Linked DNA regions of Homo sapiens: region 2 is linked to region 1. A link means that fine-mapping ties the variant in region 1 to the expression of a gene that starts in the linked region. Tissue or cell type: whole blood. Region 1 holds a variant in brackets; the other region holds the start of a gene. All regions are shown on one strand. Distances are from middle to middle.

Region 1 (8,173 bases):
AAAGCTCACACATAGTCTCCCCTCCCTTCCCCAGTCCTCTTGGCGACAGGGCGGTCACAGGACATATGTGTTCTTCACCAGCTGCTCCTTGTCATCTCCGGAGCTCCAGACGGTGCGCAGGGCACGCTCCTGGTTCCTCCGTGCCACCCGGATCAGGTAGACCATGGAGGCTCCCAGGAAGAGGATCAACACCATCACGAACAGCCCCGCCAGAACCACCACTGAGGACGAGAGAGGGGCCTCAGGACGGGCCAGGCAAGGGGAGTTGCAGCCAGAGTGGCGCTCACCAAGGGCCTGGGGAATCCAGGTGGGCTCAGCCTGAGGACCAAATGCCCCTCCCCAACCCAGACAGGGTCCAGAACTGCAGCTGGAGAGGACACAGCCTGCCAGAGATGCCACCAAGGAGAGTCCCCCAAAAAAGGAGGCGCCATGCTATGTGCGTGCCAGCAGAGTGGCCGTGTCGCCAGCAGAGTAGTCATCTGTGTTCCTTCTTTTTGAACTAAAAACCCAACTCTCAGGGCAACCTGCACAGGAGCCCCAGGCCGAGAGATGCACAAGGGTGTAAAAAACACTTAGCACCGGTGTGTACACATGAAACCTTAGGGGCTTTGTGCACACACACGCTGACCGGCAATAGAGAAAGACGTGGCCCTGCAGGGGCTGGGAGGGCTGAGAGCTACTGCGGGATGAAGTCAGGGTGGAAGCGAGGGGGTACTCAGAGCTGTGCCAGCAAATTTAATAGTGTCTGCCCCACTGCAGTCTCGCTGGTCAGCTCAGATGCTTTTCTTCAGGAGGGGATCCGGCTAAGGAGTGTGACCTGTGGCAGCCTCCCCCATGTGGCTGTGGAGCTGCAGAGTTGGCCTTTTTGGGGCCACCCTCCAGACCCAGACTGCTTGCTTCCCAGCCCCGTGCCTGGCAAACCAGGCTTCACTGCTAGAACAGGACAGACTCGCAGGCCAGGTCCTGGCTCCTTCACCGGGAAACAGGTGGAGAAAGAGGCCAGACTGGCATGGCAGGTCTTTTGTGCCAACATTATCACCTGCAACTCAAGCTCAGAAACACAGGCCAGAGGCCTGGCCTCCCGCTCAGACCAGACTGTGTTGGGAAACACCCTGGCCCGTGGTCCTCCGTCCTGTCACCCGTGACCAACTCTTATGCCCCACATAGCAGCGCTCCCTCCACACCTCAGGCCAGCCTCAGGCCCGTGTGCAGCAGTCCTCAAATGCTCAACAGGAAGACCTCATCCCCAGTCACCCACGCCGCCTGGGCAGGGCCTGCCTTGTGACTGACTCACTCCAGCCCCAACTGTGTACACTGAACGGTGGGACAAACCACCACCTCGCCATTCTCACGCAGAAACATGACTTTCTGCCAAGATGATGTTCACAGTGAAGGATAATGTAAACCACAGCTGGGCAGGGCTGAGCTCAGTCAAGGAAGGGAGGAGGCAGGCTGATGGCAGGAGGAGGGTAAGGGGCCACTTACCCTTTGAGCCAAGGGGCAGGGGAGGATTCTCCTGCTGGCCTGGAAGAGAACACACAGCCTGAGGTCAGCTCACAGCCCCCATTCCACAGAGCTGCCGCAGGGGATCCCCTCAGCCAGGGCCTCCATGGGGAGCTCTTTCTGAGGGGCTTTCTTCCAGCTTTTCTGGGGCTTAGAGGCCTTGCTGCCCTGGTGGGCCCAAGAACAGCATTTCCAAGGCCTTCATATTTTAGGGATGGGGAGATGGACCGGGGTCCTCAAGGGCAGGGCTTCCTGGGCTGAGGGGCTGCAGACTTACGGAAGCAGCGGAGCATGCAGGCCTCCTCAGAGCGGTAGCTGTTCTTATTGCCCCGGCAGCCTCCATAGATGAAGTTATTGCAGGAGTTCCTCTCCACGTCAAAGTACCAGCGTGGGAAGGATGCACGGCAAGGCCCAGTGACTGCGTTGGCGGTGCAGTATTCTAGGAGTAAGACAGCCCAGGGAATACAAATTAGTAGGGCCCGCAAGGAGGGGAAGCAAGCCAGAAAGTGCCTGAGGAGGCTTGCGGCTCCAGCAGACGGAGAAACATCTCTCTGGTAAAGAAGCCTGTAAATTACACCCAAGACCAGTGCAGCGGCTCTGACGCGCTGCTCCTTGGGTCCAGGTGACGGCTTCGGAGCTTTGAAGGCTGCTCTCTGCCAAGCCCTGTTCTAGGCCTTTTACATGCAGTGGCTGAGTCTCTATGAGACCTATCTGGGACCCTTCATTTTATACATGGGAACTCTGAGGCGGGGCAACAGTCACTTGCCCACAGCCAAGCCGCTGGCGAGAGGTTCAGGGACAATGTAAATTGCAGAGCCACGTGCCAGGCTACGCCTCTAACGCACATCTCCACAGGCGCAGCCTCCTTCCCACTGCTGGCGGCATCCACGTGGGGCCTGTCACCTTGACCCCAACCTCAGGGGGCTGCCACCACCTGGGGAGGGGAGAGCCCTGCTCTACAACTTCCTCAGTGAAAATCCGCAAGTGTCTCTCAATACCCAACTAAGAATACATGTTTTGCCCCATATATAAGTTTCTTCGGAGTTTTTTTTTTTTTTTTTTTTTTTTTTTTTGAGACAGAGTCTCACTCTGTTGCCCAGGCTGGAGTGCAGTGGCGCAATCTTGGCTCATTGCACCCTCCGCCTCCCAGGCTTTGAGCAATTCTCCTGCCTCAGTCTCCTGAGTAGCTGGGACTACAGGTGCATGCCACTACGTCCAGCTAATTTTTCGTATTTTTAGTAGAGACAGGGTTTCACCATGTTAGGATGGTCTTGATATCCTGACCTCGTGATCCGCCCACCTCAGCCTCCCAAAGCGCTGGGATTACAGGTGTGAGCCACCGCACCTGGCCTCTTTGGAGTTTTACCTTCATAGTTGAACATATCGCTGGAGTGGTCTTCAGAATCCTGCCTTCTGGGAGCTGAAACACAAACATCTGTGTTAGGGAGGCTGGGCCGGACACAGGACACAGGCCTAGCTGGGTCTGGGTCTGGAAGGGCCCACTGAGGAGTGTGGACACGCCTTTAAGAAGGGGTGTGTAGCCCCTTCCATGGCCGGCTCTGCCACGTCACCCCAGCCCTAATGGGCTCTACGCACACACTGAGAGTGCTGGATGTGGTGGCCCTGCCGCCACCTCAGGGTTCCTATAGAAACCAAGCCTGCCACAGCTCCTAATATTATAGGGAACACGGTCTTGTTCACACTTTCTAATACAGTGAGGGGGACATGTTCCTCTCCAACAAGATGGAAACCAGAGCTGGTGTGTGGGGGGGCTAGCAGAGGATAAACAGGGAGCCAGGCAGAGCAAAGCCAGGACAGGCACAGGACTCCAGGCCTAGCAAAGCTGGAAAGTGACCACCCTAACGCCCCAGCACTCTGCAAGCCAGCCGGCCCAACAGCTGCTGAGCTACAGTGCACTCGGTGGGTAGCAGCTGCCGGGGGAGTCCCATCCTCCAGCAGGGGTGCGGTGCAGTACCCCCTCCACAGCAGCCTCCCAGAGTCCATGGCCTGAGGTCTGCCCCGAGGGTGCATTTGCTACCTGGTAGTGCATCGGGACCACTCACCCCAGGCGCCCGATGCAGAGTCCTTAAACCATAAAGGAGGAATGGGGCAGCAGCCGCCAGCACTACAAAGCAAGCTAACACACATCTTGAGATCACAAGCTGCAGTGGCGGGGAGGCGGGGGTGGCAGAGGACAGAGGATGCCCACGGGGCAGGGGACAGCGATGGCAACAGGGAGCAAAGGAAGCAGAGGAGACAGAACAGGCAGACAGGAGGGTGGGTGGGGAGTGGGGTCAGCAGAGCAGCTGGAGGCCCGCACAGCAAGGAGGGGCCTGAGCCTCATGGGCAGCAGCCACCTCCATCCCATCCTCCAGGAGGAGATGGGGGCCAGCCAGGAAGTGCTGCAGGATCCCCGGCCCCTGTGTCAGCTGGACAGTATAAACTCCCCCATAAGGATGCTGGAGCCAGAAGCCGGCAGCCCAGGCAGAGCCCCCGGTTTGCCAATTTTGAGTAAACAGAACCATGAGAGGGAAGCCTGTGACAGTTCCCAAATGACAAGTGTCCTTTCACAATGACCCATCCGGTGGCCTCACTCCATCGCGGGTCTCTTTAAGAACCTACCACTTGGGACAGAGGAATCCGCTGCATTCCTGCTGGTGGCCAGGTCACCCGTGGCATTCTCTGCAAGGGGACAAAGAAACAGCACAGTGAAAGAGCTTTCGAGAGACTGCCAGGGACAAAGAATGAGCTGGCCCTGTGCGCCTCTCACCACAGCATCCACTTCTCCTTTACATGGGACCTTCAATGTGCATGCCAGACCACAACTTGGAAATAAGGAACCAAGATTGCCTCCCGAAGAGGAAACTTAAGATTAACTTGCAGGGAATCAGAGCAGAGATGTGCAAAGTGACCTTAAAAAGACAGTGACTTGGCCGGGTGTGGTGGCTCATGGCTGTAATTCCAGTACTTTGGGAGGCCAAGGCAGGTGGATCACCTGAGGTCAGGAGTTTGAGACCAGCCTGGCCAACATGGCAAAACCTATTAAAAATACAAAAGTTAGGGCCGGGTGCGGTGGCTTACGCCTGTAATCCCAGCACTTTGGGAGGCCAGGGTGGGCAGATCGCGAGGTCAGGGATCGAGACCATCCTGGCCGACACTGCGAAAACCCATCTCTACTAAAAATACAAAAAATTAGCCGGGTGTGGTGGCACGCGCCTGTA[G/A]TCCCAGCTACTCCGGAGGCTGAGGCAGGAGAATTGCTTGAACTCGGGAGGCGGAGGTTGCAGTGAGCCGAAATCGCACCACTGCACTCAGCCTGGGCAACAGAGTGAGACTCCGTCTCAAAAAACAAACAAAAAAACCCAAAAAGTTAGCCAGGCGTGATGGCAGATGCCTGTAATCCCAGCTACTCGGGTGGCTGAGGCAGGAGAATCGCCTGAACCTGGGAGGCAGAGGTTGTAGTGAGCCGAGATCACACCATTGACCATTGCACTCCAACCTGGGCAACAAGAGTGAAACTCCGTCTCAAAGAAAGAAACAAACAATCAAAACACAGTGACTTCCAGGGCCAAATAATTGCTTAACTGTATCAACTCATCTAACTAATTCAACTGTAATACCAGTGCTTACACTGGGTGAAGGGTGGGGGGCATCACTTGAGGCCAGGAGTTTGAGACCAGCTTGGGCAACATAAAAAGACCTAATCTCTTTGGGGGGAGAAAAACAAAACAAAACACGACACTTTTTTTAAAGGTTAACATGACAAATTTTTCGTTTTGAAACGGAGTCTCGCTCTGTCGCCCAGGCTGGAGTGCTCTGGCGCGATCTCAGCTCACTGCAAGCTCCACCTCCCGGGTTCACACCATTCTCCTGCCTCAGCCTCTGGAGTAGCTGGGACCACAGGCGCCCGCCACCAGGCCCGGCTAATTTTTTTTTGTATTTTGAGTAGAGACGGAGTTTCACCGTGTTAGCCAGGATGGTCTCGATCTCCTGACCTCTTGGTCTGCCCACCTCGGCCTCCCAAAGTGCTGGATTACAGGCGTGAGCCGCCGCACCCGGCCCACATGATACATTTTACACAGCGCTTATCTCCCACACCTCGTCCAAGATGGAGGGAACCCTGGCTCCTCCGCATCCTCGGGCCTGGCCTAGCCTGATGCTATTAAACGGTCACCTTGCAAACCAGCTCCCCGCGTTCTGCCTCTCTCTTCATCAAGCAGTCTTCTGGCAACTGGACTAGAGACTTGCCTATGCGGACTAAAGGCGTGGGCCCGGGGACACGAGTGCCTGCTCCCCGGGGCGGTCCTGGTTCTCATGATGAATTAATACACTGGCAGTCTCATTCTCACTTGCCTTCCCACAGAGCCTGCCTGCCTGGGAGAGAATATGCCGGCAAAGGACCCCAGGCACTAGCAGCCCTGGCAGTGTTTAGCTCTTTACAGACTCACATGGGAGCGCCTCGAGAGACACACATTGCAGCCAGTCAGATGCCAATATGTGCTTTCTGGACCTGCAAGGCGGGGCCGGACTCTAGGGAGACAGCTAACCTGCCTGCTCCCAGGAACACACAGCCACTCATGTCCCCTGGCTATGTTCACTGTCTACTGCCTGAGTTCTCAACACTTCAGCTCCCTTCCTGAGGAGGTAACAAACAGCCAGGATGGACAGATACATTTGCTAAAGGCAACTCTTGACTGGGATAGCTCAGAAAAGGTAGCAAAAGATAGTTCTCCCAAGTCCTCCTTCATAATGAATCACAGCTGACGATAGAAATACAGTAACTGGGTCAACGGTGGCTCACAGAGACAACACCAAGTCATCAAAAAAACATGTTAGGGGGAGTGCCGCTGAAAATATTTTTATTTATTTTTTACTTAAAGGCCAGTGTAATTGTTTGTTTTTTCAGTTAAAGTGAAATGTTTAGCTGGGCACAGTGGCTCACGCCTGTAATCCTAGCACTTTGGGAGGCAGGCAGATTGCTTGAGCTCAAGCGTTTGAGACCAGCCTGGGTAACATGGTGAAACTCCATCTTCACCAAATACACAAAAATTAGCCAGGTGTGGAGGTGCACGCCTGTAGTCCCAGCTACTTGAGAGGCTGAGGCACGAGAATCACTTGAACCCAGGAGGTGGAGGTTGCAGTGAGCCAAGATCACATCACTGCACTCCAGCCTGGTAGGCGACTAAGCGAGAAAAAAAGAAAAAAGTGAAAATCTTTAACATAGGATTTGGATGGCCAAACCCTCGGGTCTCTGGAACACTCGGGATGGAGCAGCCCCAAAGGGCCAATGTCTCATCACCACCAGCTCTCAGGAAGTCCTTCTCACTCAGCTAAGAGCCAGGGCACGCTGCTGGGAGGTTTAGGTTTTAATTTAAACTGTGAGGTTATCAGGGTCAAAATTACCTTGATTCCACAGAACTCCTCGCAGGTGAGGGCCGCAAAGAGGATGGATTCCAGGACGTATGTTTGTTTTAACTTGATCGGTAACTTGGCTGGGTGAGCTATTCAAGTCACTTGTCCCACAATTAAAAATAACCCAAATAGCGGCCAGGTGCGGTGGCTTACACCTGTAATCCCAGCACTTTGCGAGGTTAAGGCAGGCAGATCACCTGAGGCCAGAAGTTCAAGACCAGCTTGGCCAACATAGCGAAACCCCATCTCTACTAAAAATACAAAAATTAGCCAGGCGTAGTGGTGGACACCTGGAATCCCAGCTACTCAGGAGGCTGAGGTTGCAGTGAACCGAGATTGCTCTACTGCACTCCAACTTGGGCGACAGAGCAAGACTCTGTCTCAAAATAAAATAAAATAACCCAAATACCCAGGGAACAAGAGGGGCAGCCCTGTCGGAGTGGATCAAAAAGCCTCTGCTCAAGAAGGCAAGGCTACTTCCTCTTTGGTCTGCTCTGAAACTTGCACTTAGTAAAGTGGGAGAAAGGAAGCTGGGTCACGCTGGCCCCAGCTCTGCCCTGTTGTTTTGCTCCCTTTCTGGGAAGAGGAGGAGTGAGGGTCTGCTGTGAAACCACTGTACGGCCACCAGGACATTCACACGGTGCCTGTTTCTTCTGCTTTTTAAAACGTCACCCAGATTCCACTGTCAAGAACTAATAAAGAGAGGAAAGTATCCACATTCCAGTTAATAAATTGTCTCTAAAGAGCAAAATCTGGCTGGGCACAGTGGCTCACGCCTGTAATCTCAGCCCTTTGGAAGGCCCAGGTGGGAGGATCACTTGAGGCCAAGAGTCCAAGACCAGCCTGGGTAACATAGGGAGACCCCCGCCTCTATAAAAAATTTCAAAATGAGCAAGGTGTGGTGGCATGTGCCTGTAGTCCCAACTACTCAGGAGGCTGAGGTGGGAGGTTCTGCTTGAGCCCAGGAGGTGGAGGCTGCAGTGAGACCCTGTCTAAAAAAAAAGCAGGGGCTGGGCGCAGTGGCTCATGCCTGTAATCCCAGCACTTTGGGAGGCTGAGGCAGGCAGATCACAAGATCAGGAGATCGAGACCATCCTGGCTAACAAGGTGAAACCATGTCTCTACTAAAAACACAAAAAATTAGTTGGGCGTGATGGTGGGTGCCCGTAGTCCCAGCTACTCAGGAGGCTGAAGCAGGAGAATGGCGTGAACCCGGGAGGCGGAGCTTGCAGTGAGCCAAGATCGCGCCACTGCACTCCAG
Region 2 (8,173 bases), 24 kb after region 1:
TCACTACCCCGCCTGGCACGTTATCTGCCAACCCAGACAACTACTTCTTCCTTCCCAACTTTAGCTCCGGGCCTGCCACCTCTCCCGCTGCTCTTATGATCATTCTTGGAGATTTCTATATCCAGGTAGATGGTCCTCTGACCTCTAGGTCCCAAGACCTCCACCTGATCTCCTCCCACCCTCGCCCCCCCGCTTCCTCTCAGGGTCACACCTAGACCTGTCTCAGTAACTGCCACCTCTTCAGAACCTCCCTCTCATGCATCTCACTCACTACCCACTGCATCCTATCTGTCTGGTTCATTCCCTTCAGAACCTCAACTCCAACAATCTGCTGGCCCTACCATCTACCTCGGCCCTCCGCCCCCTCATGTTTTCATACAGAATAAATTCCTTGACCAACCCCCATCCTCCCTCCCTCACACATTCTCTGTTCACTCCTCCCTCACCACCACACTCATCCAGCAGCACCTGAGCCACTGCATGGAGCTTCAGCAACACCACACTCCCAGTGGATGACTCGCTTCCGGAGAAAACAGAAGCAATCAGGAAGGAGCGAGGAAAAAAAAGTCAAAACTGCCTTCTGCCTCCGATTAAGCTGTTCAAGCTTTCAAACAAACAGAACTTACGATGAGTGAGGGCATGAGTTCACCCAGTCAGACACTAGTACTTCTGAAAGGTCAGTAGGTCCAGTCGGCAGCAGCAGTCAGGTAGGCCACTCTGAACAGAGAAGGCCTCTGCAGTGAGACCTGGCTTTGTCAATTACTACTACCGAGTGACCTCGGGCAAGGCAAGTAACTTCACCACCGCACCCGGCTGTTTCAAAGGTTAAATGGCACATCCCAGCTCAGAGTAAGCACCAGAGGTAGCAAGAGGCCATGTCCCAGCTCAGAGTAAGCACCAGAGGTAGCAAGAGGCCAGGTAACTGGGAGGTACATCCTAACGTAATTACTTAAACTGAAAAAGTCCAGCAGAGCTGCCAAATTCTGGTTCGAATTGCAAGAATGATCAACGTCTGCATTCCTGACTCCCAGTCACCTACAGCTGAGCCTCTCCCCACCAATTCACTTTTTTCTCCTGCCTAGGGCACAGAGAAATTAACCAGTCCCCAGAAGTTACCACAGGTGATGACTTGGTACACACCTAGCCTGCTCTTTTTTTTTTTTTTGAGACTGAGTCTTGCTGTGTCGCCCAGGCTGCTGTGCAGTGGCTTGATCTCAGCTCACTACAGCCTCCGCCTCTGGGCTTCAAGCGATTCTCCTGCCTCAGCCTCCCGAGTAGCCGGGACTACAGGTGTGCACCACCATGCCCAGCTAATTTTTGTATTTTTGGTAGAGACGGGGTTTCATCATGTTGCCTAGGGTGGTGTTGAACTCCTGGCCTCCAGTGATCTGCCCGCCTTGGCCTCCCAAAGTTCTAGGATTACAGGCATGAGCCACATCACCCGGCCTTCTTTTTTTTTTTTTGAGATGGGAGTTTCACTCTTGTTGCCCAAGCTGGAATGCAGTGGCGCGATCTTGGCTCACTGCAACATCCGCCTCCCGGGTTCAAGCACCAGCACCTGTCTATAAAGCCCTAGGCCATCTGGCTGCAGCCAACCTCTCCCACCTCCCATCCTCCTCCAGTCCTCCCCTCCTTCACGCCTGCTCCAGCCAGGCTGGCTCTGTCTTTTCCCTGAACCCAACCAAGCTTGTTCCAGCTTCAAGGCCTTTGTACTCTATTGCCTGCAACTGGACACTGGTCCCCCAGGTCTCCGTGTGGCTACTGCCTCATTCTTCATGTTAGAGCTCAGATGTCACCCTCCTCACGGAGACGTCCCCCGACCACCTGAGCTAAAGCCGCCCCCAACATCTTACGTCACCCTGTTGGTGTACTTCACCTGGTTCATTTAATTCTCAGTAACTTAATCTCATGGCAAGTGCTTTTTAAACCTTCACTAGCTCTGCCTCTCCCACTGGAATATTAGCTCTGTGAATGCAGGAACCCAGCTAGTCTGAGTTAACTGTTATAACCAGCGCCAGTGCCTGACACGTAGCAGGGCCTCAGTAAGTTTTGCTGAATCAATGAATTCTTGCTTTCAAGAGAGCTCTTTTCAAAACACGCTGGTGCTTGTCTGAAGCAGTTAAGGTTATAACAACACTTGTTCAAAGAGACCTTTCAGACCACACTTCCTTAAGAGTGTAGAAGTTTAAATCACCTTATTCACCACCGACTTCTAAGGGCCAATCCAAAGACCCCAACACCAGCTGCTCAACGCCAATACTCTCTCGAGCCTTAGCAGAGCTTCCTCTTCCCCAAAGCTTGTTTCCTTTCTTGCTCCCTCCTTCTCGGGCACCTACTTTACTGCAACTCAACTACAAAAACTTCAGGGGAGGCTCTTGTCCAATCTCCAAAGAGGCAGGGGTGAGATGGGCTTCTTCCGAGTCTAAAACGGCCACCAGGTCACCCAACCCAACCCCCACCATCTCACAGGCCTGGCCTCTCCCTGAGCTTTGGCCATGGAACTTTCCACCGCCAGGAGAAGGCTGGTCTTCAATTCGGCTCCTCACCCCGTTCTTGCCACAGGAAGGGGCAGTGCCACGCCTTCTTGGTCAATACCCCTTGACTCTTCCTCCACCCGAAGGAAACTCTCCTAACCCTCGCTCCTCCGCCCGTCTTCGCTGTCGAAGGCTCCCAAACCTCATTTCAAGGCTCAATCCTCCAGGGCTGGTTCCACCACACCCGCTGAACGCCATCAAGTAGCCCCCAGTTTCCTCCCCCGCCAGTTCTCCCTGCTCAGACCCCCGTTGACCCCCGAGCCTCTGCCCCCTGCGCCCCGCCTCCAGCCTACCCGCCCGGCCCTCACCGTGGATGCTGCGTTCTCGGTCGGCCGCCAGGACCCCAGAGAGGAGCAGCGATCCCAGCAGGGCGAGAAACGCCCGGCTCCGCCTCAGCCCGCACAGCTGCGCCATGGCCAGCTCAGCCGAGACGCGCAGGCGACGCCACCAGCCGTTGGGGTCTCGCGATCAGGTGCGGGAAGCCCCTCAACGCGCACGCGCAATGGAGCGCCTCGCGTTCAGGTGCCGACGCTCCGGGAGGGTCCGCCAGGTGCCAAAGCCCCCGGAAGTCGCCTTTCCGGACCTTCAGTGTGGGGACGCCCGGCCTTCTCGGCGCGCGATGCCTGGGTCTGCTCCTCACTCGCGCCCTCGCCGCCTGCGACACTCAACGGCCCTCAGCGCGTTCAGAGCCGCGCTACACCTCCCAACGCGCGGAGGTCGCCAGAGCCAATGGCGAACGCCTATTGGAAGCGGCTCCCGAAGGTGGCCGGGCAGGCAGGGGGCGGGGCGCACCTGGCTAGGCAGGGCGAGCTGGGCGCAGGCGCAAAGGGCAGGCACCTGCGCGGCCGCTCCCCGGCCCTGGGCGCACCTGGGCCCGCCCCTGGTGCCGGGGAAGAGGCGGGGCTTGCGCGGGCCTCGCCCCCAACAGAACCTGGCGGGGCGGGGCGGGGCGTCTGCCCGCTGAGCACCTGCCACCCTTCCCTTGGGCTTGGTGACGACGTCGGAGGAGGGCCTTCGCTCTAGGACTGGCCTCAGGGTGGGAGGAGGGGGCGGCAGACACGCGTTTCTTGGAAGCCTGTGGTTTTCTGCCCGCCTCGCCGCAGCTTTCCTGTGAATTCCTTCCTGAATTTCAAAGTTCACTGGGCTCATGCTCCAGGGCTTAATGCTGGGGACCCAGCGGTGGCCATGCCAGACTGGTCCCTGAGTCACCAAACAGGAACGGCCCAGAGTAGTGATAGCGGAAGCTTAGCACAAAGTGATGAAAGCTGTGATGGGGAAGGCCAAGCTTAGGGATCAGAGGCTGGGTCGCTAGAAAACCAGGGCATGATGGGAGCCCAGACAGCTTTCCCATCCAGCCTGAGAGAGGGCCAAGGAGGGCTTCCTGGAGGAGGTGATAGGCCCATGCAAAAACAGCCCCGAGCCCTGGCTCCAAGGTTCTCAGGACAGATATGGAGACAAATACTTAGCACAGGCAGCATCAGAATTGAGAGGAAGGAAGCCCCTGGGGAAACCCAGAGAAGACACCTGACCAAGCCTGGGAGTCAAAGAGGGCTTCCTGGAAGAGGAGTTACGTGAACAGACTCTAGAAAGGGGAATGGAGTGGGGCAGGCACACGAGTAGAGGATAGCCAACAAGGTAATCAACATAAATGCATTATTATTGAAAACACTTTTAGATTATTTCTTTTTTTTTTTTTTTTTGAGATGGAAGTTTTGCTCTTGTTGCCCAGGCTGGAGTGCAATGGAGTGATCTTGGCTCACTGCAGCCTTGACCTCCTGGGCTCAAGGGATCCTCCCACCTCAGCCTCCCAAGTAGCTGGGACTACAGATGTGAGCCACCACATCCAGCTAATTTTTAAATTTTTTGTGGAGACAGGGGACTTGCTATGTTGCCCAGGCTGGTCTCAAACTCCTGGCTTCAAGGGATCCTCCTGTCTCATCCTTCCAAAAGTGTTGTATTACAGGCGTGAACCACCACACCTGGCCTGAAAACACTTTGACAGTGCTATACAGAAAAGGAATCAGGGGCTGGGATGGAAAATAACAAGAGATCTTTTGAATGGGGTGGCGGAGGAAGGGCTTTGTGAGGGGTGGCTTTGATAATGAACTCTGAAGGATGATAAAGGCCAAGGGACAAACATTCCAAGAATCAGGAATGGCACATGCGGAGGCCTTCAGGCAGGAAAGAGAATAGTGTGTTCAGGAGCCAGGGCCACTCCCACTCTTCAGCCTCCCTCCTAGCATAATAATACATGAAAAGCCGTAACTGAGTTATCAAAATGGTATTTACCTTAAACAATGGAAGTCTAACCTTGCAATGAGATCATGGGACTCAAGGTGGAATCTGAATGTGAGGCCAAAGGTCTCCCCCAGCACTTGAATCTCCCACTGCCACTCAGGCCTACTAAACCTAGGCTTGAGCATGAAAACAGAGAAGTATGTGCTGAGCCGTCAAGGCTTGGAAGAAGGTATAGGCCTCTTCTTTCTTTATTTTATTTTATTTTGAGACAGAGTTTCACCTGTTGCCCAGGCTGGAGTGCAATGCTGTGATCTCAGCTCACTGCAACCTCCACCTCCTGGATTCAAGCAATTCTCCTGCCTCAGCCTCCTGAGTAGCTGGGATTACAGGCACCACCCGCCACCACGCCCAGCTAATTTTTGTATTTTTTGTAGAGATGGAGTTTCACCATGTTGGCCAGGCTGGTCTCGAACTTCTGACCTCACGATCCGCCCACCTTGACCTCCCAAAGTGCTGGGATTACAGGCGTGAGCCACTGCATCTGTCCAGTTTTGAACTTTAAACACAAAAACTCAAAAGGAGGGCTGAGCGCAGTGGCTCATGCCTGTAATCCCAGCACTTTGGGAGGCCAAGGCGGGTGGATCACGAGGTCAGCAGATCAAGACCATCTTGGCTAACACGGTGAAAAAATCAAAAAGATTAGCCGGGCGTGGTGGCGGGAGCATGTAGTCCCAGCTACTCGGGAGGCTGAGGCAGGAGAATCTCTTGAACCCGGCAGGCGGGGTTTGCAGTGAGCCAATATTGTGCCACTGTACTCCAGCCTGAGCAACAGCGCGAGAGTCGTTCTCAAAAAAAAAAAAAAAAAAAAGAGGCCGGGCTCACACGCCTGTAATCCCCAGCACTTTGGGAGGCCTGGGCATCTCCATATCTGTCCTGAGAAACATTCCAAGCATCAACATTCCTGATGCTTGGAATGTTTGTCCCTTGGCCTTTATCATCCTTCAGAGTTCATTAAAAAGAGGTGGCTCACGCCTGTAATCCCCAGCACTTTGGGAGGCCGAGGTGGGCGGATCACGAGGTCAGGAATTTGAGACCAGCCTGGCCAACATAGTGAAACCCTGTCTCTACTAGAAATACAAAAATTAGCCGGGCGTGGTGGCGCGCGCCTGTAGTCCCAGCCACTGGAGAGGCTGAGGCAGGAGAATCGCTTGAACCCGGGAGGTGGAGGCTGCGGCGAGCCGAGATCGCCCCACTGCACACCAGCCCGGGCGACAGTGTGAGACTTCGTCTCAAAAAAAAAAAAAAAAAAAAGAAGGGCCGGGTGCGGTGGCTTATGCCTGTAATCTCAGCATTTTAGAAGGCTGAGGTGGGCGGATCACGAGGTCAGCAGATGGAGACCATCTGGGCTAACACGGTGAAACCCCGTCTCTACTGAAAAAAAGTACAAAAGACTAGCCGGGCGTGGTGGTGGGCGCATGTAGTCCCAGCTACTTGGGAGGCTGAGGCAGGAGAATCGCTTGAACCTGGGAGGTGGAGTTTGCAGTGAGCCGACATTGCGCCACTGCACTCCAGCCTGAGCGACGGCGCGAGACTCGTTCTCAAAAAAAAAAAAAAAAAAAAAAAAAAAGAGGCCGGGCGCGGTGGCGGGCGCCTGTAGTCCCAGCTACTCGGGAGGCTGAGGCAGGAGAATAGCTTGAATCCGGGAGGCGGAGGTTGCAGTGAGCTGAGACTGCACCACTGCCCTCCAGCCTGGGTGACAGAGCGAGACTCTGTCTCAAAAAAAAAAAAAAAAAAAAAAAAAAAAACACCAAAAAAAAAACCTTGACAGTAGGCCAGGCGTGGTTGGCTCACACCTGTAATCTCAGCACTTTGGGAGGCCGAGGCGAGCGGATCACCTGAGGTCGGGAGTTCAAGACCATCCTGACCAACATGGAGAAATCCTGTCTGCTAAAAATACAAAATTAGTCGGGCGTGGTGGCGGATGCCTGTAATCCGCGCTACTCAGGAGGCTGAGGCAGGAGAATCGCTTGAACCTGGGAGGTGGAGGTTGCAGTGAGCTGAGATAGTGCCATTGTACTCCAGCCTGGGCAACAAGAGCGAAACTCCGTCTCAAAAAATGAAACAAAAACAAAACAAAAAAAAAACCGACAGTAATTGCATCAATTGTTTTTTTCCCCCTTTTTTATATTGCATCAATTGTTTAGAAAGCAGACCACCAAAAGGTTTTTGTTTCTGTTTCTTCCCTGGGGAGGACTATTTTATCATTGACACTGTTTAGAAATGTCACTGCAAAGTAAAATAAAAATTAGACCAACTTTTGGTCAGTTTTTTTGAAATGGAGTCTCACTCTGTCTGTCGCCTAGGCTGCAGTGCAATGGCACGATCTTGGCTCATCGCAACCTCCACCTCCCGGGTTCAAGCGATTCTCCTGCCTCAGTCTCCCAAGTAGCTGGGATTACAGGCTTGTACCACCACACCCGGCTAATTTTTGTATTTTTATGGAGATGGGGTTTCACCATGTTGGCCAGGCAGGTCTTGAACTCCTGACCTCAGGTGATCTGCCTGCCTTGGCCTCCCAAAGTGCTGGGATTACAGGCATGAGCCACCATGCCCGGCCTTGGTCAGCTTTTTATTTTTAAATTCTCTACAGACAGTGCACCCTCTTTTTGCCTGTACCCAAAGTGGACCAGTCCTGTCCCCCTGCCTTTAGTATGCTACTAGTTGGGAAACAGACAATAATTTTTTTTTTCTGTCACTGCACAGAACAGAAAATATGACATTTTTCTTTTTGAGACAGGGTCTCACTCCATCACCCAGGCTGGAGTGCAGTGGTGCAATCACAGTTCACTGCGTCCTCCATCTCCTGGACTCAAGTGATCCTCCCAACTCAGCCTCCAGAGTAACTGGGACTACAAGCATGTACTATTGCACCTGGCTTTTTTTTTTTTTTTTTTTTTTTGTAGCGACAGGGTCTCACTATGTTGCCCAAGCTGATCTTGAACTCCTGGATGTAATTGCTCCTCCTGCCTCAGCATCCTATAGTGCTGAGATTACAGGTGTGAGCCACCACGCCTGGCATGGACAATACATTAAATGAGTACATTATATATAATGTTAGAGGCCAGGCATGGTGGCTCATGCCTGTAATTCCAGCACTTTGGGAGGTCAAGACGGGCAGATCGTCTGAGGTCAGGAGTTCGAGACCAGCCTGACCAACATGGTGAAACCCCATCTCTACTGAAAATATAAAAAGTAAGCGGACACAGTGGTGTATAACTGTAGTCCCAGCTACTCAGGAGGCTGAAGCAGGAGAATCTCTTGAACCCAGGAGGCAGAGGTTGCAGTGAGCCATGATCACAATACTATACTCCAGCCTGAGGTGACTCCAACTCAAAAAAAAA

Evidence for each region. PIP is the estimated chance that this variant, and not a neighbour inherited with it, causes the effect.
Region 2: it holds the start of SPINT2, and the variant in region 1 is fine-mapped to the expression of SPINT2 in whole blood (TOPMed, PIP above 0.99).

Annotation. Positions count from the first base shown.
Region 1 is chr19:38,283,888-38,292,060 of GRCh38, reverse strand. It overlaps SPINT2 (serine peptidase inhibitor, Kunitz type 2), which reads right to left. Exons shown (of 7, transcript NM_021102.4): 3 at 4,126-4,185; 4 at 2,870-2,923; 5 at 1,781-1,942; 6 at 1,486-1,524; 7 at 1-221. The coding sequence ends at 55. Among named protein-coding and RNA genes, the nearest start is that of C19orf33, 16 kb to the left of the region's middle. The variant G/A (reference allele first, on the strand shown) is at 4,725.
Region 2 is chr19:38,259,668-38,267,840 of GRCh38, reverse strand. It overlaps SPINT2 (serine peptidase inhibitor, Kunitz type 2), which reads right to left and starts at 3,268. Exons shown (of 7, transcript NM_021102.4): 1 at 2,843-3,268. The coding sequence starts at 2,948. RefSeq lists a silencer at 3,244-3,563 and enhancers at 3,720-4,637, 4,778-5,714, 5,715-6,652.